Homo sapiens: one gene and its partners. The protein of the gene in region 3 purifies or fractionates together with the protein of the main gene of each other region. This does not show direct contact. Each region holds a gene or a part of one and is shown on either strand. Other genes may lie near its edges.

The links. Proteins that work in one complex are often made in the same cells at the same time.
Region 1: the proteins of ELMOD1 (region 3) and PKP3 purify together in Homo sapiens (affinity purification with mass spectrometry; 2 studies listed by BioGRID and IntAct, with this or other methods). This does not show direct contact.
Region 2: the proteins of ELMOD1 (region 3) and DSG4 purify together in Homo sapiens (affinity purification with mass spectrometry; 2 studies listed by BioGRID and IntAct, with this or other methods). This does not show direct contact.

The regions. Positions count from the first base shown.
Region 1 is NC_000011.10:396,479-404,481, reverse strand, and holds part of PKP3 (plakophilin-3), read right to left. Parts: intron 7,875-8,003; coding exon 7,795-7,874; intron 7,669-7,794; coding exon 7,037-7,668; intron 6,944-7,036; coding exon 6,820-6,943; intron 5,491-6,819; coding exon 5,286-5,490; intron 4,516-5,285; coding exon 4,341-4,515; intron 4,149-4,340; coding exon 4,031-4,148; intron 3,948-4,030; coding exon 3,777-3,947; intron 1,405-3,776; coding exon 1,219-1,404; intron 865-1,218; coding exon 711-864; intron 540-710; coding exon 347-539; intron 247-346; coding exon 159-246; intron 1-158. UniProt on the Homo sapiens protein: A component of desmosome cell-cell junctions which are required for positive regulation of cellular adhesion. Required for the localization of DSG2, DSP and PKP2 to mature desmosome junctions.
Region 2 is NC_000018.10:31,407,047-31,415,049, reverse strand, and holds the end of DSG4 (desmoglein-4 isoform 2 preproprotein), read right to left. Parts: intron 5,599-8,003; coding exon 5,459-5,598; intron 5,306-5,458; coding exon 5,242-5,305; intron 3,941-5,241; coding exon of another isoform or gene 3,820-3,940; coding exon 3,602-3,819; intron 2,223-3,601; coding exon 1,455-2,222; 3' UTR 141-1,454; downstream 1-140.
Region 3 is NC_000011.10:107,586,439-107,594,503, forward strand, and holds the start of ELMOD1 (ELMO domain-containing protein 1), read left to right. Parts: upstream 1-4,708; 5' UTR 4,709-4,971; intron 4,972-8,065. UniProt on the Homo sapiens protein: Acts as a GTPase-activating protein (GAP) toward guanine nucleotide exchange factors like ARL2, ARL3, ARF1 and ARF6, but not for GTPases outside the Arf family.

The sequences.
Region 1 (8,003 bases), about 110 Mb from region 3:
CTGCCCGCTGTCCCTCCTGCAGTGTGCTGGGTGTGGCCCGGACCCTTCCTCTCTGGGTCCCTGGTCTCCATCCTCCCATGGGCCTCTTCACTGACCCTCCCCCGGCGTCCCATGCCCTGCACCCGGGTCCCTGCTTGCCCTGGGCTCGGGAAACGTACCGCCCGGAAGTCACGGTGGAGCTTGTTGTACTGCCACAGGTTGGCCAGGAGGCTGGATGCTGCCCGGGAGGACTTCTCACTGTCGGGGCTGAGGGTGGAGGGCAGTCAGGAGGGGACACACAGCCAGAAAGCAGGGTGGACTGGGAGGACCCCTGACCAGGCTGCTGCACGGCTGGGTCGGCCCCTACCTGTCCCGCTTCTTCTTGATGAAGATGAGCTTTCGGAGTCCGTCAAAATACAGCAGGTCTCGGGCAGCGATGGGGCTGGCCACCACCAGGTTGTTGAGCACAGCTATGATGTTGACCAGCACCTCGGCTGGGGGCGACTTCTCACCCACGCTGCCCGGCAGCTTCTCGATCAGGTGGCTCACCACCTTCGTGGCTGTGGGAGGCCGGGGGTCAGTCTGCACCCCTACTCCTGGCCACCTGGGCACCTGGGGTCCCCTGCCTCCCCCAGGGAGCTGGACTGGCCCCAGTGGTCTGAAGCCCACACTTAAAGACAAAATTGACATGTGGGTCCAGCAGGGCAGGGACGAGGGGCTGCCCGACTCACACATCTCGTCCTTGTTCCTAGCGTTCCGAGACAGGTTTCGGATGAGGCCAGTCAGTGAGCGCAGCTGGTGGTGGTCGGCGGTCCTGACACGGTCTAGCAGGGGGTTCAGAATACGCTCCTGCTCCAGGGCCAGGCGGCTCAGCACCCCCGCCCACTGTGGGGAGGGAGGGTGTGAGCCGTGACCCGGAGGCCTCAGACCCTCACCTGAGGGGGTCCTGCCACAATGGGGTCGCTGCATCCTCTCGCCACCCTCAGGGGGGCCTCTGCTTCTGCCTTTGCCCCCCAGCCGGGGGGAATCAGCCGCAGCCCGGATCAGGTGCCTCCCTTCAAACCCAGGGCAGGACTTCCATCCTCCCAAGGCCCAAGGCCTGCGCCACCGGGACGCTGACCTCCGAGGCTCCGCGGACCCTGGGCGTCCCCTTCCTCCTCCCCTCCCTCTCCCTCCTCTGTCCCCCCCTCAACCGCATGAACCCCTGGGACCCCCTCGGGTCTGGGTTGGGTGCCCCACCCTGCGGTCGCCTGCCGTGATGTTCTGCAGCGCCCCGGCGGCCGCCTCCGTCGTGTGCCGGTTGAGCTCGCAGCGCTGCAGCAGCCGGTTGTACAGCCCCACGATCTGGGGGCTCCACAGCCACTCGAGGCCCTTGGGGTCCTTGGACACCTCCGCGAAGGTGAGCGCATCGGCGGCGAGGGGCAGCTGCGCAGGGCGGGGAGGAGTCGGCGGGGTCGGGGTGAGCGGGTCGGGGTGAGCGGGTCGGGGTGAGCGGGTCGGGTGTGAGTGGGGCGGGGGTGAGCGGGGTCCGGGGTGAGCGGGGCGGGGGTGAGCGGGGCCGGGGGTCGGGGGTGAGCGGGGTCCGGGGTGAGCGGGGCGGGGGTGAGCGGGGTCCGGGGTGAGCGGGGTCGGGGTGAGCGGGTCCCGGGGTGAGCGGGGCGGGGGTGAGCGGGGCGGGGGTGAGCGGGGCCGGGGGTGAGCGGGGCCGGGGGTCGGGGGTGAGCGGGGTCGGGGTGAGCGGGGCCGGGGGTGAGCGGGGCCCGGGGTGAGCGGGGCAGGGGTGAGCGGGGCGGGGGTGAGCGGGGTCGGGGTGAGCGGGTCGGGGGTGAGCGGGGCCGGGGGTCGGGGGTGAGCGGGGTCGGGGTGAGCGGGTCGGGGGTGAGCGGGGCCGGGGGTCGGGGGTGAGCGGGGTCGGGGTGAGCGGGGCCGGGGGTGAGCGGGGCCGGGGGTCGGGGGTGAGCGGGGTCGGGGTGAGCGGGGCCGGGGTCAGTGGAGCCGGGGGTGAGCGGGGCCGGGGGTCGGGGGTGAGCGGGGTCCGGGGTGAGCGGGGCCGGGGTCAGTGGAGCCGGGGGTGAGCGGGGCCGGGGGTCGGGGGTGAGCGGGGTCCGGGGTGAGCGGGGCCGGGGTCAGTGGAGCCGGGGGTGAGCGGGGCCGGGGGTCGGGGGTGAGCGGGGCCGGGGGTCGGGGGTGAGCGGGGTCCGGGGTGAGCGGGGCCGGGGTCAGTGGAGCCGGGGGTGAGCGGGGCCGGGGGTCGGGGGTGAGCGGGGTCCGGGGTGAGCGGGGCCGGGGTCAGTGGAGCCGGGGGTGAGCGGGGCCGGGGGTCTGGGGTGAGCGGGGTCGGGGTGAGCGGGGCCGGGGTCAGTGGAGCCGGGGGTGAGCGGGGCCGGGGGTCGGGGGTGAGCGGGGTCCGGGGTGAGCGGGGCCGGGGTCAGTGGAGCCGGGGGTGAGCGGGGCCGGGGGTCGGGGGTGAGCGGGGTCCGGGGTGAGCGGGGCCGGGGTCAGTGGAGCCGGGGGTGAGCGGGGCCGGGGGTCGGGGGTGAGCGGGGCCGGGGGTCGGGGGTGAGCGGGGTCCGGGGTGAGCGGGGCCGGGGTCAGTGGAGCCGGGGGTGAGCGGGGCCGGGGGTCGGGGGTGAGCGGGGTCCGGGGTGAGCGGGGCCGGGGTCAGTGGAGCCGGGGGTGAGCGGGGCCGGGGGTCGGGGGTGAGCGGGGCCGGGGGTCGGGGGTGAGCGGGGCGGGGGTGAGCGGGGCGGGGGTGAGCGGGGTCGGGGGTGAGCGGGGTCGGGGGTGAGCGGGGCCGGGGGTGAGCGGGGCCGGGGGTGAGCGGGGCGGGGGTGAGCGGGGCGGGTGTGAGCGGGGCCGGGTGTGAGCGGGGCCGGGTGTGAGCGGGGCCGGGTGTGAGCGGGGCGGGTGTGAGCGGGGCCGGGTGTGAGCGGGGCCGGGGGTGAGCGGGCCGGGGGTGAGCGGGGCGGGTGTGAGCGGGGCGGGTGTGAACGGGGCCGGGGGTGAGCGGGGCCGGGGGTGAGCGGGGCGGGTGTGAGCGGGGCGGGTGTGAGCGGGGCGGGTGTGAGCGGGCCGGGTGTGAGCGGGGCCGGGTGTGAGCGGGGCGGGTGTGAGCGGGGCCGGGGGTGAGCGGGGCGGGTGTGAGCGGGGCCGGGTGTGAGCGGGGCCGGGTGTGAGCGGGCCGGGGGTGAGCGGGGCGGGTGTGAGCGGGCCGGGGGTGAGCGGGGCGGGTGTGAGCGGGGCGGGTGTGAACGGGGCCGGGTGTGAGCGGGGCCGGGGGTGAGCGGGGCGGGTGTGAGCGGGCCGGGTGTGAGCGGGGCCGGGTGTGAGCGGGGCCGGGTGTGAGCGGGGCAGGTGTGAGCGGGGCCGGGGGTGAGCGGGGCGGGTGTGAGCGGGGCCGGGTGTGAGCGGGGCCGGGTGTGAGCGGGCCGGGGGTGAGCGGGGCGGGGGTGAGCGGGGCCGGGTGTGAGCGGGGCGGGTGTGAGCGGGGTCCGGGGTGAGCGGGGTCCGGGGTGAGCGGGGCGGGGGTGAGCGGGGCGGGTGTGAGCGGGGCCGGGGGTGAGCGGGGCGGGGGTGAGCGGGGTCCGGGGTGAGCGGGGCGGGGGTGAGCGGGGCGGGGGTGAGCGGGGCGGGTGTGAGCGGGGTCGGGGGTGAGCGGGGCGGGGGTGAGCGGGGTCCGGGGTGAGCGGGGCGGGGTGAGCGGGGCGGGGGTGAGCGGGGCGGGGGTGAGCGGGGCCGGGGTCAGCGGGGCCGGGGTCGCAGCACCCACCCCACGCCCCGCTCAGGCTGGTGCCCACCTCGCGCAGCCGCCGGCTCTGCGGCGTGAAGCAGCCCACGACCTCTCCCGGCGGCGCCCCCGCCAGGTCCCTGCGGCCGCGACCCTCCAGCCGCTGCAGCGCGGACGGCGGCATCTCGTCGTAGAGGCGGTAGGACAGGTTCCGCAGGACGCACACCGCGTTCTCCACGCTCTGCGGGCGGGGGCGCGGGGCAGGGGCGCGGGTCAGAGCGGCGGCCCGGGGGCACGGCCCCTCCTCCACACCGCGCCCCTCACCTTGTCCTCGCATTTGCCCGCGTCCAGGGCGTGGTTGATAGAGGTGACCAGGGCGTCCACCAGCCCGTGGCACTCCCGCATCTTCTGGCGAGTGGCCTGAGAGGCTGAGCTGAGGTTCCTGGGGACCGAGGTGGATCAGAGCCCCCCAGGGACCCCGCATCCCGGGCCTTGCCCCAACCCATCGTGGGCCCTCGCACGCCCATCCCCAGCGCGAGGCGTGCGGTGTGTGGGCTGCGAACGCCAGGCCAGGCGGAGTCCCCACAGTGACCCGCGCCTGCAATCCCCACCCCGCTGCCCGAGGCTGGCGCACCTGAGGAAGCCGGTGGCGTTGTAGAAGATCTCTGCCTCCGAGGCGTTCTGCTGGATGAGGGGGGGACCCCCAGCCCCCGACAGGGGGCTCAACACCAGGTCTGTGAGCTGCTCCAGCGTGTCTCTGGCCAGGCGGTCCTTCAGGTGGTCGCTGGATGAAAGGTTCCACAGGATCCCTGGAGGACGGGGGAGGCTGCTATCAGCGTCTGCCCTCCAACCCCCTCCGCGTTTCTGGGGATGGTGTGAAGAGGTCCCGCCTCTCCCCAGGGGCTGGCCTGGTGTTCTGTGCCTCACCCACGAGCCCCACTGGGGAGACCCTGGGGTGGCATTTGAGGTGATAGAGCTGGGACCAAGCAAGAGGGGACAAGATGTGGGGGTGGGGTGGTGAGCAGGCCTGGCAGTGCAGGCGGCTCCAAGGAGACAAAACCACAGGACAGGGTGGCCGGGGGTCCAGGAAAGAGGCGGGCAGTGGAGGCCCAAGTAGAAACACGGCCGGCAAAAGGTACAAAGGGACGGAGGGGAACCGAATGAGGTGGAGGGGTCAGAACGGAGGAGAGAGGACAGGCAGAGGAGGGACAGGAGGAGGGGGACAGGCAGAAAAGGGGGACAGGTGGAGGGGGGGACAGGTGGGGGATAGGCAGAGGGGGCAGGTGGAGGAGGGGGGCCAGGTGGGGGGGACACAGAGGGAGGACAGGAGGAGTAGGGGACAGGCAGAGGGGGCAGGTGGAGGAGGGGGCAGGTGGAGGAGTGGGGCAGATGGCGGGCAGGTGGGGGGGTAAGGCAGAGGGGGGGAGGAGGAGTAGGGGGGCAGGTGGCAGAGGGGGCAGGTGGAGAAGGGGGGCAGATGGTGGGCAGGTGGAGGGGGGCAGGTGGGGAGGAAGGCAGGGGGGATAGGCAGAGGGGCGCAGGTGGAGGAAGGACAGGTGGAGGAGGGGACAGGCAGCACCTGTGACATTTTTGCGAAGCTCATCATCCTGCTCCCGCAGTGTCCGCAGCAGCTCGAAGATCCCGTTCTCCTCCACCAGGGCCAGCTTGTTGTCAGCGTTGTCGTAGATGAGGTTGCGCATGGCACCTGTGGCATGGCGCTGCACTTCCTGGTTGGCGTGGTTGAAGAGCTTCACCAGCCTAGGCACGGCCTGAAGGCTGCGGGCCTGCGGGCACAGGCATATGGGGGTGCACAGACGCATGTGGATGGATGCAGACTATGCACCTGTGTGCAGCTGTGTCCAGGTGCGTAGATGTAGATATGCAGGGGATGCAGCCGTATAGGGAGGTGACGGAGGTGTGTGCGGCGGTAGGGAGGTGACGGAGGTGTGTGCGGGGGTACGGAGGTGACGCAGGTGTGTGCGGGGGTACGGAGGTGACGGAGGTGTGTGCGGGGGTACGGAGGTGACGCAGGTGTGTGCGGGGGTAGGGAGGTGACGCAGGTGTGTGCGGGGGTACGGAGGTGACGCAGGTGTGTGCGGGGGTAGGGAGGTGACGCAGGTGTGTGCGGGGGTAGGGAGGTGACGCAGGTGTGTGCGGGGGTAGGGAGGTGACGCAGGTGTGTGCGGGGGTAGGGAGGTGACGCAGGTGTGTGCGGGGGTACGGAGGTGACGCAGGTGTGTGCGGGGGTACGGAGGTGATGCAGGTGTGTGCGGGGGTAGGGAGGTGACAGAGGTGTGTGCGGGGGTACGGAGGTGACGCAGGTGTGTGCGGGGGTAGGGAGGTGACGCAGGTGTGTGCGGGGGTACGGAGGTGACGCAGGTGTGTGCGGGGGTAGGGAGGTGACGCAGGTGTGTGCGGGGGTACGGAGGTGACGGAGGTGTGTGCAGGGGTACGGAGGTGACGCAGGTGTGTGCGGGGGTAGGGAGGTGACGCAGGTGTGTGCGGGTGTACGGAGGTGATGAGGTATATGTGGGGGTAGGGAGGTGACGCAGGTGTGTGCGGGGGTACGGAGGTGATGAGGTATATGTGGGGGTAGGGAGGTGACGCAGGTATGTGCGGGTGTACGGAGGTGATGAGGTATATGTGGGGGTAGGGAGGTGACACAGGTGTGTGCGGGGGTACGGAGGTGACGGAGGTGTGTGCGGGGGTACGGAGGTGACGCAGGTGTGTGCGGGGGTACGGAGGTGACGCAGGTGTGTGTGGGGGTATGGAGGTGATGCAGGTGTGTGCGGGGGTACGGAGGTGACGGAGGTGTGTGCGGGGGTATGGAGGTGATGAGGTATATGTGGGGGTACGGAGGTGACGCAGGTGTGTGCGGGTGTACGGAGGTGATGAGGTATATGTGGGGGTACGGAGGTGATGCAGGTGATACTGGTGTATCCAAATTGTATCCTTCTGCTCTTCCTCTGCTGAGGGGGCTCCAGACAGAGTGGGGTCTACCCAGTCAGCTTGGGGATCATGAGGGGTGCTCAGTGAGCAGAGGACAGTGGGAGGTGGTGGGGCCCACGAAGGAGGTCACCAGGGGGCAGCGAGTGGGTGGTCGGGGTGGTCACCTGCTTCTTGGCGGCTGCATCGCTGTAGCACTTGTGCTGGATGTAGGCCGCTCCCAGCACCTGCAGGTTGGGGTCTGAAGCCATGAGGTACTTGACTGCTGAGGGCAGGTCAATGTCATCAAAACTGCGGAGCCAGGGGTCAGGGGTCAGGCTAACTTTGGGTTCAGGCTGGGCCCGTGGTAGAAGCCCCCTCCCTGAGCCGGGCCCAGCCGCTCACCCGCTGCTGAGTCTCTGCAGGGTTCGGTGGCTACCGTAGCTGTTGAACCCATGCACGTCCGGCAGGTGGCCCGAGTCAGCCAGGCTGAGGCTGAGGCTGCGCACAGATGGCGCTCGAGCCACTGGCTCCAGGACGGCCCCCGGCACTGCCCCGCCTACCCCGCGGCTCCGGTGGCTGCTCTGGAATCGCTGCAGGGTCCGCACGGCAGGGGCACGGATGGTCCGGCTCGGGGAAACCTCAGTGGCCTCGGGCCAGTCCAGCCCCCCTGCCCGGCTGGAGCTGGAGCTGGCCTGGCGCTCGTACGCAAAGGCCCTGTAGGTGGAGGTGGCCGCGGGCTCCAGCTGCTCAGACACCAGGCTGTAGCGGTCGTCCAGGCCCCCGGGCCCCAGCCGCAGCGAGCGCAGGGAGAGTGTGTCATAGTCGGCCCGGCTCCCAACCCCACCGCGCTCATGGAAGGACACGGGCCTGGTGGGCATGGGAGGGGTGGGCTGGGCACCCCCGTACCCAGCGGCCCCAAAGGCGCTGCCCCCGTTGTGGGCTGAACTCAGCCTCCGACTGCAGCTCAGATCCACGGCGGAGCGGGAGGACCAGGAGGCTGGGCTGTAGGCCGGCTTGGCGATGGGCCGGAAGCCCTGTGGGTCGAGAGGGGGCGGTGAGGGCGTGCCTGGGCTCACCTGTGTCCGGGCCCGCTGCAGAGCCTCCCACTCTCCAGACTGCAGAGCTCAGATCGTCCCCCTCGGGCTGGGCCCATCGCTCACCGAGGTCTTGTCCCCACTCAGGCCCTGAGAGCGAGAGCTGAAGCCAGCCTGCAGGGTGTGGTACTGCCCCCTGGATGTGCCTGTGGAGAGGGACGGTGGTAGCCCAGCTCTGCCACACAGCAAAGCACTGGCCTCCTGCCTCCTCTCCACCACTCCATCGCTATTGGCAACCCTAGGAGCAGCCTCCAATCCAGGGCAGGGAGGCCAGG
Region 2 (8,003 bases), on a different chromosome or scaffold from region 3:
GTGGTCATTTAACCTCTCTATTTCTAGATTCATTGTCCAGAAAATGAGAGAACTAGGTAAGAGGTTATCTGAGATGACTTAAATTCTACAATAGTTTTATTCATAAAGGAGCAAAAGATAGGCAAGAAACACTACAATTATTTCCTTTCAAAAGGATTAAGCCTTGAAAATAAGTTTATTTCATTTACATTATCTCAGTCACATTATTGCTGCTACTGTATACATATTTTACAGAATTAAGTAAAATTACCTGGCTAGAGATTCTTTTTCTCAAGTCAGCTTTATGCCTACGAAAAGTAAGCAATGTGTTTCCATTTTATTTATTCAACATAAACAGTAGTGTTGCAAAGAGAAACACAACTTGGTAATGGACTTAAGTAGTTGGTTAATTATTGTTGTTAGGAACTTAAAGCCATATCCCAGAGTTTTATTTTAAGTCTAGAAATGAATAGAAGCTCTATGAAGGCAGAAACCATGTCTGTCTTCTTTACCTGTATATTCACAGAGCCAAGACTAGCACCCAACACCTAGTTGCTTCTAAGTAAATATTGTAGAATATATGAATAACTACAGAGTGCTTTTGGAGAATATCTGGTTGCCAATTGAAAGCTCTACGATTCAGGTCAATGAAATTGGTTAAGCCATATTTCATGTATTTTTCTGACATAATTGGCAACAGTAGGGAAAAAATTCCCTGTAAGTGGGGAAAACTCTAATATTTCCCCAATAACTCTTTCTACTTTAGGATTGTCATTTTTTTTTGCTATTCTAGATTAATTTACAGTTAATCATATAAATCAATAAAGTTCAATAAAAATATATATTTTTCTTTGATGAACCATTTCCAGCCATGCTTTCAGTTGGCAAACTCTTTTCTTATTATATTAAGCATCTCCTATTGCTTAATAGCGCATAATATTGAAAAATCTTTTGAAGAGACAAATGACTTCAGATATCTAAAGATATTGACAGATACTCTACGTTCCTTTTCAATTTCCTTTCAGAATGTACATTTCATTCAACTTTTCAATTAAAAATTTTAATATAAATATTTCCCTAACGAAAAATATGGCTGGTGGATGTAGACAGGGCTTCTTTTGTAACTTCCAAGAACAAGGCATCTTGGTTTACAAGATTGGTTCTACAGGCCTCAAGACCCATAGGATTCACAATATGAGTTATGTGCTATTCGTTAGACAGTATCAAGGGATGCAATACATTTTCTGCACATTTTTTGACGCATTATTTAAAATCAGAAAGAATTTTAAAAAGGCTTATCTAAAGTGCCTAGCCATATTCACCCTCAAAATGGTATAATCAAATAATGGCATTGACCTTAGAATATCTGAGTATTTGTTGACTATTAATATATATGGTACATTATATATTTTTGGTGGATGTATTGATGATTACAAGGTGCAAGGTCTCCACATAGAATACTGACCATAAAGCACTTACTGTTGGGTGTAATGTATGTTACTGTATCGTGTTACTCTGTGTCGAGATGTCATGGGGGATGTGGAGCCAACGGTTTGGCCTATGGGAAGGTCTGGACTCATCATTTGCATCACTTGAATTTCTGGCCCTACTAAAATATTGCCGCTCATCACAGGTCCCATACAACCCTCAGTCGTGCTACTATTGCTCATGTCAGGCACACCAGGACTAGCCAGTACTCTCTCAGCATAGATTACATTGTTGTAATCTGCTAACTCAGCAGGTACACAAATATTCCCTTGAATATCATAGACAGGTGCCATTACTGCTTCGGTTACTACAACATTGGGTGCAAGCTGAGGATCAAAAATAATTGTAGTGGGTTGCACACATGGATCAGCATTACCGTAAGTCTCAGTCACAATAATATCCCCATGGACCACGGGTTCAGATGCTGCCATTTCTTCTTGGAATTCAACTTCTGAGGGAGTCAATCCTGAAGATTCATTAACAAAGTAATTAGGTCCGAGCAAAGGGAGGTCAGTACTGATTGGTATACAAGCCTGGTGTGAAGGAAATGGTTCAATTTCTGTGTTTAAGCAGATCTCAGCAAGAGTCCTAAATTTTGGATCTAAAGTTTCCATGCAGCTTTCATCTAAGTCATCCACAATCCAACTGCAACAACCAATAGAGCCTACGGGAGACCCGACTCCCTCGTGGTCATAAATGAGCAAGCAGTCATTGGCTGGTCGACCTTCATCTTCATCTGCATAAGCATACGCTTTCTAAAATTAAAAGGAAATACAGAATTAGAAATTTCTTTTTCCCTAAAATAAGGAAGAATAACAGCAATCCCTCAGAGAGACTTCTGAGTTAAGTTGTTACGGAATAAACTGAATAATGGTATCAATCACTCATTAAAATAATTGATACTATCCATGCACATTCTGTGATAGCATTTGTAACTACCAATTTTAAGATATAGTTTACAATTGCAACAACATCTTCAGCATTTGTTTGGTAAAGAATCATGGTGAAATTCATGTATGAACAGATGGAGAATAAAGCAGGCCGACTGAAATATGAGATAAAATTCTAGTTCTATTTTAGTTCTTTTAAAATGTGTAATAAATTATTGTTAACTATAGCAATCCTGTTGTGCTACCAAATACTAGATCTTCTTCATTCTAACAGTATTTTTGCACCTATTAACCATCCCACTGTTTCCCCTCCCTACTACCCTTGTCAGCCTCTAGTAACCATCATTCTACTCTCTATCTCCATGAGTTCGGTTTTTCCTTTTAGCTTCCACAGATGAGTGAGAACATGTCAAATTAGTCTTTCTGTGCCTGGCATATTTCACTTAACAGTGTCCTCCAGTTCCATCCATGTTGTTGCAAAATGACAAAATTTCATTTTTTATGGCTGAATAATATTCCATTGGGTATATGAATCACATTTTAGAAGTCCAATCATCAGTTGATGGACACAGGTTGATTCCATGTATTGGCTACGTGACTAGTGCTGCAATAAACATGGGGGTGCATATATTTCTTTGATATACTGATTTCCTTTCTTTTGGATATATACCCAGCAGTGCTATTGCTGGACCCCTTTTCGTAGTGAAGGTCAGTTGGTGGATAAGTCACTGGACTGAGAATAGGAGAGCTATCTTCTAGGTCTTAATCTAGCACGAGTTGTGGTGATGCTGCGTTCCTGAGTTTTAACTCCTTTCGTTCCCAATTCTTTTTATTTTCTCTTTTCTGTTGGAGGCTCCGGGAGAACATGAAGGACATCAAAAACAGAGGTCATAAATGCACCTTTTTTCCCCTTGATGAGCATTTTCCTGCTTTGCTACTGCTGTGGGAAACAAGGTGAGGAATCAAGGAAACAAAAGATAGAAAAATGGAAAAGGGAAGTGGAGAATGATGAGGGGTGTGGCCTTGTTCACGGTACTAAGATGCGCTATGGCAGTTGAATATGAAATCCTGTGGCAAATTAGCATTTTGTGTTTTAAGGAGACGTGAAATACTTTTTATTCAGGTTTGGGATAGGGTTGAGAATAACAGCATATTTCCGAAGAGGCCTACTACCATTGTGAGTATTTTACTATTATTATTATTCAATCTCAAGACGATTTTATGTGTGACTGTGAGGGCATTACCTCCGAGAAGTAGCTGTCCAAGAAAGCCATGTTGATGTCTGCGTCAGCGTAGTCCCGCAGGGTTCCCATGGTAGAGCTCCTCTTCCTTGCGGCCCCTGAGGCTCCTGCGGCCCCTGCGGCCATGAGGCCAACGGCTGTCCCCATACCTGTGTTGAGCTCCACTCCCGATACACCTCCTTCCACCGTGCCCCCGGCTGCATAGGTGTTGGTGTAGATTTCTGAAAAGGGAGGATGTTGGTTTAACAGCGCTGGAGTTGCCTGCAGCGCGCATCTGCCTAAAACGCTGCCGCCGCCGTCTGCGGTGCCACCACCACCCGGCAAGGCGTAGGCGCTAAAAAGCTGACAAAGAGAGATACAAGTTACACCGATACATCTCCAGGCTTGTTGACCAAATAAAAGTAAATTAATTACACAGAGGGAGTCAGTGGTGGGACGTGGCCTTCCCACATTTGCACAGACTTCGCCCTAGACTTAAAGGTGTAGAACTAGCCAAGAGAACTACAAGCAGGCGCCCGTTCCCGCCGTGGCTGCTGCGGGCTTGATCCAGCCGGGAGCCCTCCAAAGCAAGGCCAGCGGCGTGATTGCAGAAACTGAGCTCATAGTCCTCCTTCACTCCGGAACAGGATGGAGCTGGGCTCACAGGGATGTTCAGTCACGGAGTTTCTTTGCATACAAAGGGCCAAGCTTGGGATACTAAGGAACCATCAGAGAAAGCTCACGTGCACTGCAGAATTAAGCACCCTCTCTGTTTGGTGCAATCATTGCCATATAGCTAAGTAGTGTGTTCAGTATTGTTAGATATGCGTGGGGCTGGTAAGATAGGAGAGTTTACGACACTCTTTTGAGGCAAAAGCTTGTCTGAAGTTAAGAAAAGTTATTCAGTGTATTATTAGAGTACATTTACTGCCTTTTCTTTAGCTCTTTAAAAAAAAACAGCTTGTATTATAAATAATTACTACAGTGCCAGGCACTACTCTAACGTATATTTTGTGATATATGTATATATACACACTTATATATGTGTGTGTGTATATATATAGACACACATACACATGTATGTTATATATAATAAAATAATCTATACAATATATGTATGTATTATATATTACATATGTAATATGTATTATTTACTCCTCACAGCAACACTTTAAAGTAGGTACTATCATAAGCTCAATTTTAAAGATAAGGAAACTGAGGCCCAGTGAGGTTAAATGTCTTGACTAAGGACTTATTACTACAGGTTGAGCATCCCAAATCCAATAATCAAGAATCCAAAATGCTCCTAAGTCTGAAACTTTTTGATCATCATGGTACAAAAAGTTTGAGCCAAACTCAAACTCATGGTCCTATGCATTTCGGATAAAAGATATGCAACCCTTAAGCAAGTGGCAGAGCTGGGAATCAAACCCAAGCATTCTGCTTCCAGAGTTTGCTCTTTTAACTGCTGTGTCATACTTCACTGTCTGTAGTTTCAGATAGAAAAAAAAAGTGGCTACTTCAAACAGGTCACATTCCCTCTAATTATACTGTCACCCAAAGAGACTGACAGACTTTTCCATAAGGTACTTTTACATGAAGTTGGTCTGGTTGAATAATTTTGAAAAATTTAAAAGGAAAAACAGATTTTGGTGTCTACTGACCAGAGGAATCCATCCGATCCTGGGTATTTGAGGCTGTCATGGGTGCACATATATTTGACACATCCTGAAAAGAAAAATAAACATTTTAAAAACAAACGCTTTATGTTAAACATTTAAAAACTGACATCTGTTCATTTTTGTGCAGCATGTAATTGTTAAGACATGCTCAATTTCCACTGAAACTCCACACTTCTCTGGAGAGTGACAGTCCACTTACCCTGTCCTCGGGATGGGCCCCTTCAATTCTCCAAGACTGCATCACTCCTTCTCCGCCCTCAGGCACAGGAGCAAATCTTGTTCCCAGGCCTTCTGGCTGTCTCTGTTTGCAGCAACACAGGAGCAGCAAGAGTGGAGCCACTGCCCAAGAAAGTGACAATGTCGAGTTAACACACATTGCTCGGTTTAGGAAGTCACTGGATGAATCATTCTGGGGAGCATTTGGTGGCAGTATATTTAGAACAAAAATACAAATATATGTAAGAAAATCTCATTTTTTTCCTTTAGGGGATTGAGTATACATATCCAAGTTTATAAATACAGCACCACCAAATCACATAGAACTTTAGCGCTAGATGGCAAGGAGTTTGCGATCAGGTAATTGAATTTCTTTGCTGACAGATTAGGAAAGTAAGGTCGTCTTTAGTCTAAGACTCTTGAACTGGTTGGGGCAGATGCACACATACATGTAAGTTAAACGCATCATGAATATATGTTATCAAGAGGATTGAATACAGGATTCAGCTATAGGACCTGGAGATAGGACCTATCTTCAATCCTTATTACAGTTACACTTAAAATAGAAGTCAAATAATACTCACTAAATTTAATGGAGATATTTACAATTATTTTAAGACTTTGTTTATAGACTATAATGAAAAATTAAAGCTATCAAAAATGTTTAGCTATCCAAGTGTTTCTTAAGAGGAAATTTCCTATTTGTTACCCTAATAATCACCTCAATTCTGTATTTTAATCCATAAATATAGACACTGCTTAAGTTTTCTAAGATTCTAGAATACACTCTGTTTAGTTCTTTGGGCCCACTCTGGTTGCTTTTCATACTTTCCTAATTCTCTAGCATGGCATGCATTTTACTAAGTGGGTTAATTAAAGATAAAGAATAGAAGGATAAATGCTTGAGGGGATGGATGCCCCATTCTCCAGGATGTGATTATTTCACATTGCATGCCTGTATCAAAGCAGCTAATGTACCCCATAAATATGTACACCTATTATGTACCCACAAAAATTAAAAATTAAAAACAGATACAAAAGAAGAGACTATCAAAGTTGCAAAATCAGCTTTAGTCTTATTACAACAATTAATTTGGCAATTTTGCCATCTGCACTATGAACAGTGAAAGGTCAAGTTATACATTTCCATAGCATTTTCTGGAAAAGGACTAAAACTAAAATTGGTAGCCCCTAGGCCATGGTTCTGCCTATTCTATATTTCTGTGAATTTAAATGTGAGCTGGATCATGTACCATTGCAGGCCTGAACTCTAACAAAGGCACTATCTAATAAATGAAATGAAGTGTTTTTAGCACATACCCAATACAATTACTGTATGTGTAATCTCATTTGGAGCTAACATCAAAAGTGTCAATTTGAGGCCCTTTGGGAACATAGGTTTGGGCTCAGATCCCTCCCACTACCATCACACTGCCCCCTCTCTCCTAAAATAGACCATGGGCTTCTCCATTGAAAACAAGTGTCCATAGGGGTATTCCTCTCCTATTCTACAATCCATCAGTTGAACAACTCTCATGCTTTCTTTGTCTGGGTCAGGAAAAAGTCTTGAAATTCTTAGTGCTAACGTTCTGGAAATGCAGCTGGCACTGGGTTTTTAGCCCTGAACTGCACATTAGTCTCACCAAAGGGCTTGAACATGCTGATGCTTGGTCTCATCTTGAGTATGACTCTAGTATGAGTAATTTTGGAAGACCTTTAACTAATTCTTATGTACAACTAGGGTTGAGAACCGCTAACTCAAAGCTTACCCGAAACCACTACTCAATTGCTGTAGAGTTATATTCTGGGAAAATGTGTCTAATATCATTGTGAGAATCACTCATGATCTTTGCATAGCTTTGAAACCTCACAGATTATTTCAAAAAAGAAATCCTCACCAAAAGTCAGCTGTTATTTTTTATGCCTTGAAATGATTACATTTTAATTAGTGCTCATCCCTGAAAACAGCAACAATACAGTTTGACAAATTTACTTCTCTTTAATTTTAGAACCCAGCTTTTGATCCCCATGAAACCTAAATATTGCAAGGGCAACCTAAAATGTATGAAGTATTCTTCCTCTGAGGATCTATATGTTTAAAAAAACTCTATGGGGAAAGGAGGGCCCTTTTTGGGAAATTTTTGTTTGGTGATCTTTCCACTTCTGTGACCAGTCTTAGTTTAGGCACTCACCCAGAGCCCAGAGGCTAATTCTCTGTTCTAGTCTCTTCTACTTGCTTCCTACCGCAGGGTCACCTGCGCTCATCAGCCCTCATCAACTCTTCTGTGCCATTGTACTGAAGCCCAGAATGCCTGGTGTGTCATGAACATGCCTCCATGCTGGCTCCCAGACTCCCTTTTGCCTCTCTGCTTCCTAGGTGTGCTATGCTCTTCCATATCTTGCTCCCTTTTGTTTGTGTGTGTGGTTTTTTTTTGTGTGTGTGTGTTTGATTACCTTTCAAATTTCCTTAGACATCATCCTCCTTTAAAAGAAATCCTCAGCAGGGTGCAGTGGCTCATGCCTGTAAT
Region 3 (8,065 bases):
TCCAGAGTTTCACCAAAGGTTTCACTTCAAGCTAAGTAGCATATAATTTCAGGAAGCAGTAAAACAGCTGGTTAAGCCTGATTTTTGTAGACCTGTAGAAGCCTACATTTTCTCCCCTTTACTAAACTTGACTGTTCTCTATGCCCTCAAAATGTAAATTTCCTCCTTAAAAATAAATTCCGGTAAGAAGCTGCCACTTATAACGCCTCTCCTGGAGGCTGCCATCAGTAAAGGCCATTGCAGGATTAGCCCATTAAAACTTTATTGTGGGAACATCACACCCAGTGCCAGTTACGAAATATTCTAACTTTTACCCTGTTTTCTGACATCAGTTTCTTGCTCTTAGGTACCTGCAGGAGCAGCCATCTTTTAGATGTTAATTCAACTCCCTTGGACTTCTCTGAAAGGAGTGGGGCCTGAGCACCAGCATTCACAAAATTTTTTGACCTGCATTGTCATAGGAGAATGACACCTTAAACAAAAACCAGGCACAGAGGAGTCTGACTAGGTAACTGAGATGAGAGAAGAAGGGACCTTTTTTCCTCATTTTATTGAGATGGGTCTCACTATGTTGCCCAAGCTGGTCTCAAATTCCTGGGCTCAATTGATCCTCCCACCTCAGCCTCCCAAGTAATGGGGACTATAGGAAACAGCCACCATGCCCAGCGAGAAGGGTACTTCATACAGATTTAATTCTACATTGGAAACCAACCTTGAGAAAAAGCCTACATTGTGTGTGTGTGTGTTGGGGCAGGGAGCGGTGTGTATGCTTCTGTCCAGATCTGAGTTCCTGAAAATCATAGTGTCTTATCCAGCTTTGTATCCCCAGTATCTAGTATAGTGCCTTATATATACTAAGTGCTTAATAAATGGTTATGACATGAATTACGGTTTGGATGAGTCCTTGTGCCACTGGAAACCCTCTCGAGATCACATTTAGAGGACTGCCACAGCAGCATGTCTGAGAGTCTTAGTTTGTTTAGTTTAACGCATTCTCTAACATGATGATTAACCCTCATGTAATCTCAGTCACAATTTTATCACTATAGATATTAATGAGCATGTTGAATCCAGCTGCTGCTGTGGTTTTACGTCCAGAATACCATAAGCCTATAAAATCCATTCCATTGGAAAGCAGAGTGGCCTTACATTAATTTCTAAGCTTTACACAACAATTAGGCAAAATTAGACAAGACTTCATGCTTTTTAAGTCCAAAGATTCCCTTTCTAGTTTTATTATGAAGCCAATACATCGAAGAATACTTTCCTCCCACAGTGCTTAAGACCAGTGCTAGATTACAAATACATAAATGGGCCATGACTTCCACCCCACCCACAAAATGATCCAGGCAGGAAATTCCAACTTGCTTGTCCATTGCTCAATCTACCCTTTGCTAAAGGAAGACATTTCTAGGTGAGGACATTTATAGTCAAATAAATTCTAAATGATAATGTTCAGTAACAGATCTTCTGAGCAAGGAAATATATCCACCTGTCTGGAAAAGACTCAAATTCTGTGTCACTTGTAATGGGCCAGTATGGAGTCTAAGCTGATGACAAAGCATCTCCTAGCTCTTCCCCTTCCTCTTCAGCTCTCCGGCTGTAACTCTGGGGAGGCTGTAGAGGCACAACATTCTCCTCTCTGGATTCTTCACTCATTACCTGTAAATGCTACATCACATGATCTCAGTTTCTTCAAATACCCTCTCTGTTGACTGCATGTTAATCTGTTCAATAGGTATTTTTATCCCAAAATAATGCAGGACCCAGAGGTGGAGAAATCTGTGGATTTGTGGTGGAAGAGAAATTATGAAAAGAAAAACTGAGCCAGATCCTGGTGAAGCAATTCTAGGGTTAGCAAGAAAACCAATTAGAAAAGAACTATAGTCTAAGGAGCCACATAGAGTTGAGAACCTGCTTACATTCATTCATTCCTTTCACACTTTTCCTTGAGTATCTATTACATATTGGTCATCTGCTAAGTTCTGTAATACAAAGATGAATGAGACCCTCCCCTTGAATTACTCACATTAAACAGTGGCGAGATTGTCTCTAATTGCTATGGCATACATGTGTACAAATATGCTTTGAAGAAGTCAGTTCTAAGTGATACCAAGGCTGCCTCACACTTAGACAATAAGAGAATCAGAGAGAAAAGCTTGTCATTCAGACAGTAGGTAGATTCAAACAGAAGATGTATGACAGAGAATAACTATTGACATAAATAGAGGCCAAAGATGGTGAAAAGGTGAGAGGGTGGGAGTGGTGTGCAAGACCCTGGAAGAGACTTTTGGGATGCAGGAGATCTGGGGATCCAGGTTGATTCTGGACATTTTAGAAATGCCATTCCTAAAGGTTAGATAAAGGATATAATTTGTTGTGGAGATTAAACTCTCTAGCCCTCCCCTACCATTTTCCATTCATCACATGGGATTGCAGCTACCTACCTTGAGTGGTTTGAGTTTAGGAAAGTTTTAGCTGAGGGAATCAACTGAAAGGAGTAAAAGTCACTGGTTCAGCAACAAACTGGCAGAGATCCATGTCCATGTCATTTGTTTGGCCTAGAGCCAATATTAATATTTTTATTGATGTTTTTTGGAAGGATGAGTCAAGACTCTATAGCGTAATTTGATGGATAACACAAAGACAAAAATTAACAGAATTACTAGACTTCTGTCCTTAGTGATTATTTACAGTTTAGGTGTTTATTTTCTGTCTTTTTCAACTAGACTGTAAGTTCCATGAGGGCAGGAACTTTGTCTTGTTTGTTCTTATTTTCCTAACATGTAGAATGGCGCCTGCAAATAACAGTTGCTCAGTAAGTAGTTTTACATTGCTTGAACCACAGTGATAGGCTGTGATGAGTACTGTGATAGCAGTATGCACTGGTGCTATGAGAGCACAGCATTCACTCTGTCTTGAGGTTCAGGGTAGGCTTCAGAGAGAAGGTGACATTTGAGCTTGAAGAGTGAGTAGCACTTCATGAAATAGAATGAGAGAGAATGGTATTTCTTTTTTTTTTTTTTTTTTTTTGAGAATGGTATTTCAGAAAGGGTGGAACACCATGAATAAAGCAATGTGTTATTAAAAAAATAGTATGTTTGGGGGATAATAAAAAGTTTATCTTTTGAATTCTGATACTTAAATAGTCAACAGTATGCATGGGAAGTAAATTTCCTTCCATACAGGCATACATTACTTCATGCAATAGTTGTGAAACAAGGACCACAGGGAGATGCAAGCAAATTACGTTTAAAAGACTATGGAGTAAAATTCTTTTGTCAGGTGGATTAATCTATCCCTAATGAATCTCTCCCGAGAAGCTTTTCCCTCCAAAGGTCTATCTTTTTCCAAGACGTTTATTCAGGGAGGTATCCTTCATATCTCCCTGAAAAGAAAGAAAAGTAAATAGTGGCTAATGCTTTTAACAATGATTAAAAAAATCAGAAAGGTCAAGGCTTTAAGGTCATTTAATGTGAAGAGGAAATAAGATAAATGTTCAGCATTTAAGGATTATCACTAACCCAACTTTTCATAAACACAGAATAGTGGAGGTGGAACCTGCAGAGACTTTTATTCAGGGAACATCCACTGCGGGACAGGCAGATGCTTTGGTATCCAGGCTGCTCCGCGCCGCCAGCTGCCCAAGTAATCCTCACAACAGCCCGCAGAGGTAGGTATTAACCACCCTTTGTTTTACAGGTGAGGAAACAGAGGCACAAGACGGTCAGGTAACCGGCTTGGAGTGATGAATGAAACTAAAATAAGCGCCGACCTCGAAGCTCATTTGGTCTTTCCCCAACCCCATGCGGCCTCATTAAAGAGACTTTTTTGATTAGCTATGGAGAAAACGTTCTTCATCAAACATGAAATGCAATCCGGAAGGCACAGGTTTCTCTCTCTCTCTCTCTCTCTCTCTCTCTCTCTCTCTCTCTCTCTCTCTCTCTCTCTCTCTCTCTCTCTCTCTCTCTCTCTCTCTCTCTCTCTCTCTCTCTCTCTCTGTCTGTATGAAGTGGCTTCTGGGGCCCCACGAAGCAATGTTCCCCCAAACAGCCCCGGACGAGGGTGTCTATAATTCATCCTGTTATAATTAACCCCGGGGTTACGGTATTGCTTCTAAAGCCCTTGTTGAAATGCAGATATGGACCTCGCAGGATTGACACGATCTCTCAATTACACCTAATTAAAGAGCTGGCTCTTTGAGAATCTGACCCGACTGGGCCAGGAGTGGGAAAGGCGGGGGCTGCCGGTTGGGGTGAGGGATAGGGTTCTGCAGTCCCGGGAAGGCAGGTGAAGGGTGGGGATCAGGATTGGAAGAGTCACTGGGTGCTCGGTGAGACGAGGGAGGTTGGAGCTGAACTAAAACAAAGTTTGACTTCTGGACAATTATCCAGGGAGAGGGCGGGGAACACACCTTGCCCGGACTGTCTGGGAATCCCATTGACAGGTCATCTCAGGTTCACCATCTTCCTGTCGTGGGCTCCTCCAGGGAGGCCACCCGGGAGCAATTAAACTGGGCCACACCAGCCACCTCCCACAGCAGCGGGGTCCGCAGATTTAACCCTTTCCCCCCAGATTCCGGCACTGGGTGCCGCGCTCTCTCCCCCAGCACCGCGCCCGCGCCCCCGGCTCCCGGACTGGGCATGCTCAGTAGCCGCCCGCTTCGTGCTCCCAGGGAAGCCTCTGCACGCCCTCCCCCGCTGCTCTCGGTCGCCTCCTCGCCGCCAGCCGCCCCGGGTGCATCCCGGCTTGCTCCGCTCCACGCGACCCAGATTCCTGCCCCGCCCCCGCCCCTTCCGCGCCCGCAGCCAGTGCGGCAGCCGCGGCCGCCCCTGTCCAGCCTCGGCGCCCGGGACCGAGCGCGTCGCTCGCCGCCGCGGAGCGCGTAGCCGGAGCGCCTGGGGAAGGCGGAGATGAAGACCACGCCGCCGCGCGCCGGGAGCTGCTGAGCCTACCGCCGCCAGAGTCCAGGTGATTGGCGACCCCAGAGGAGCCTAGGGAGTAGGGGCGAATGCCCTTGGGGAGGAGAGAGGTGCGGCGAGGACGCGAGGCATCACGCAAGCTGCGCTGTGCCTGGGAGGCAGCAGAAATGCTAAGCATCGGGGGCAGAGAGGGAACGGGAATGAAAGTGCACTCTGCCTTGGTGCAGGGGCTCCGGGGTCACCCAGGACAGTGATTTCCCCTTCTATCCTGTCCTCCCAATTAACACCCGAGAGGCTGCAGGTCGGCGCGAGAGGCTGTTTGCATCTCGGCCCGGGCGTAGGTCGCCTAGCGACCTAACGCCGAGGGCTCGGGGAAGGGATCCCAGACAGAGCCAAAATGGAAGGCGGGACAAGGGCGGCCTGGCTGGGGCGAGGGGCTGGTCTGGGTCCCTGGGAACCCCTTGCCTTGTGGGCTTCGGTCTCCAGGGAGGAGCTAGGCAGCCGGGCTGCGGGGCCGCCGGACTGTGGGGTCCTCCGCGCAGCGAGCTGGGAGGAGCGGTCGGCTGGGCTGTTGAGCTGCGCCTCCTCCAACTGCTGGGAAACTCCGCACTTCAATATTGGAGCATCTCTTTCCCGGGCAGGTAGAATTGGACAGCCGAGTGGGGAGTGACAGCTGACAGCTGACGGGGCTGTTAAAAGCAGAGCAGTGGAGTGTGGTGGTGGGGTGAGCTGTTGTGGGTGCTTTTTTTTGTTTTCCAAGTGTGGGTACGGGCTGTTCTGACTCAGTGTTTATGCTCAACCTCTAAGCGGCGAGTTCGGTAACACATCTTATGAATATTTCAGGAACGACCTCACGGGCTCACTTGCTTCAGATCAAGTTTAATGAATATGTTGTCAGCCTTTCTGCTCTGCACAGTGCCCTGAGCTTTCCACATTTCATCCCTTTCCCCCACCACCTAGGAAAATACGCTGCTAACCCCCAGTGGGCCGTAGATTGGTACTATCAATTGAGTCTGTCATTTGGAGAGACCAATTTTGGGCAGGCATCCAGGCATTGTTCTGCATCTCTGCAATGTATACGTTTTGTGCCGGTGGCTTGACAACCGTCCTTAACTGGTGCTGCCAATATGGTGGAAAGCAGGTAGTATGCTTGTATTGGGATAAATGTCTTAATTCATTAACCTATTATGACAACACGTAGTTACAGCAGACTTAGTCATTCCCTCCCCCAGAAGTTTTCTCGGGGGTCAGTTTAGTTGGTATTTTGCCAAAGGCACACTCTTGTATCTACATTGGGAGGTATTTCTCTCATCTTAATCTTTTTCATAGGAAGAAGAAATAAATGTCTTCTCTGTAAGACATCACTGTCAAGAACACTGAAAGAAGAACCCATTAACGTAGGGAACGTTGAGGACTGGAACAGGTTGTAGGGCGTCTTCCTACACTTTGGGTTATAACTTCCATTGCATCACCACCATTTACCAGTAAACCAGCACACACAGCAATCAGTACTCGAAATGGTTCTCTTTTGCAGAAAAAGCCTGCTTTTCTCCCAGCTTTGGTGAGATAGATACGTAATCTTCGTAAAGACCTATAAGGAATTCCTCTGTGGAACAAAATTTTAAGCCTCCAGTACAGGATGCTGAAAGAAGCAACTCTTTAATCTTGCCAGCCCATGCACAGTGAAGCTGAAGTGCTTCAATTTACAGATGTTTTACATTTAGGGAAGGCTTTTCCAACAAAGACCTACCGCAGTTACATCACAGGCTCCACCTCCGCCTGCCAGGCTGCTTCTGCAAGGCTGTTAGTAAGGATACTATGTATTGCTGTGCTTGATTAATGAAGAAAATAAATCTCCAAATCAAAGATTTGTTTATTTCTCTTTTTGCATTCTGCTGATTTAATTGAAAATATGAAAATTTCAAAAATTAATACTTGCAGCCAGGACTTAACTGAGGCATGATAATAACTCTATAAATGTTAGCTTTCCAAGAGATCTTAAGCAAAATTACAGTATTCTTTGTAAAATCTTCGATAAATTGTATTATAAGAAAAATTCTATGAAATGGACAAAATAAGTGAAAATGTCATGTAATAAATTAAGCAGCATTTCTTAAAGCACGTTACTGAGATGTTCAGAAAGAAACCTAGTTGCATTAACAGACATGAAATCTGGATGATTGAGAAGTTTGCGGAGCTTGCATACAAATCCCCAGGTGCATTAAAGGAAGCGTTCTCCGAGTCCTCTGAGAATTTTTAACAAAGCACTGTTAGGTTTTCCAGATTTAGCAAATAAAAAGGTGGGCTGCCCAGTTAAATTTGAATTTCAGATAAACAGTGAATTATTGTTTTTACCTATGTCCCATGTAATATTTGGTACGAACTTATACTACAAAATATTATTAGTTGTTTATCCTAAATTCAGTTTCGACTGGGCAGCCTGTATTTTTCTGGCAACCTTAGTTACTGGAAATGTTTCATTCCTCCTTTTTGGGTCATTTATGGGTTGAAAAAATAAAGTGGAGCAGAAATCATATGCTGTTCTGCAGACAATCTGGGACAAGCTCAGTTCTGGTTCAAGCTTTTGAAAATAACTCATGCTTAAAAGTGAACAGTTTCACTTCAACACATATTGGTTGGGTATCTCTGCTTGCTAGGCTTAGTGGAAGGTGCCAAGGATGCAAAGATGACATGGGGAAATGGGGCAGGGGGAGGGATCTGCATCATAAGTTCTGGGAGTTGCTGTGCCAGTAGTGTGTGTTTATGGTGGTGGTGGAGGGGCGTGTCTACTGTAGGAGCCTAGAAGAGGCACTGAATTATGCTGGGCAGCTGTAGTCAGGGAGTGAGACGCCTAGCAGTTTTGACAGGGCTGGCCTTGAATAAGAGAGCGAGATCTTATCCTGGGCGAAAATGAGAAAAAAAAAAAATCTCTGTGTTAATAGTTAGTAGAGTGGTGCTGGAAGTTGAAGGATTTGATCTGATAGCCTCAGTGAGAGGACAGAGTGGCCTGCTGAGAATGAGGGAAGGGAGGGGGATTCTGAAAGAAAGATTTTAAATAGTTGCCAATGGGAATGGAAGAGAGAGCTGAAAAGGGACAAGTGCAGGAATTAGCAAATGGTACTTCGGTGAATGGACCTCAGTGC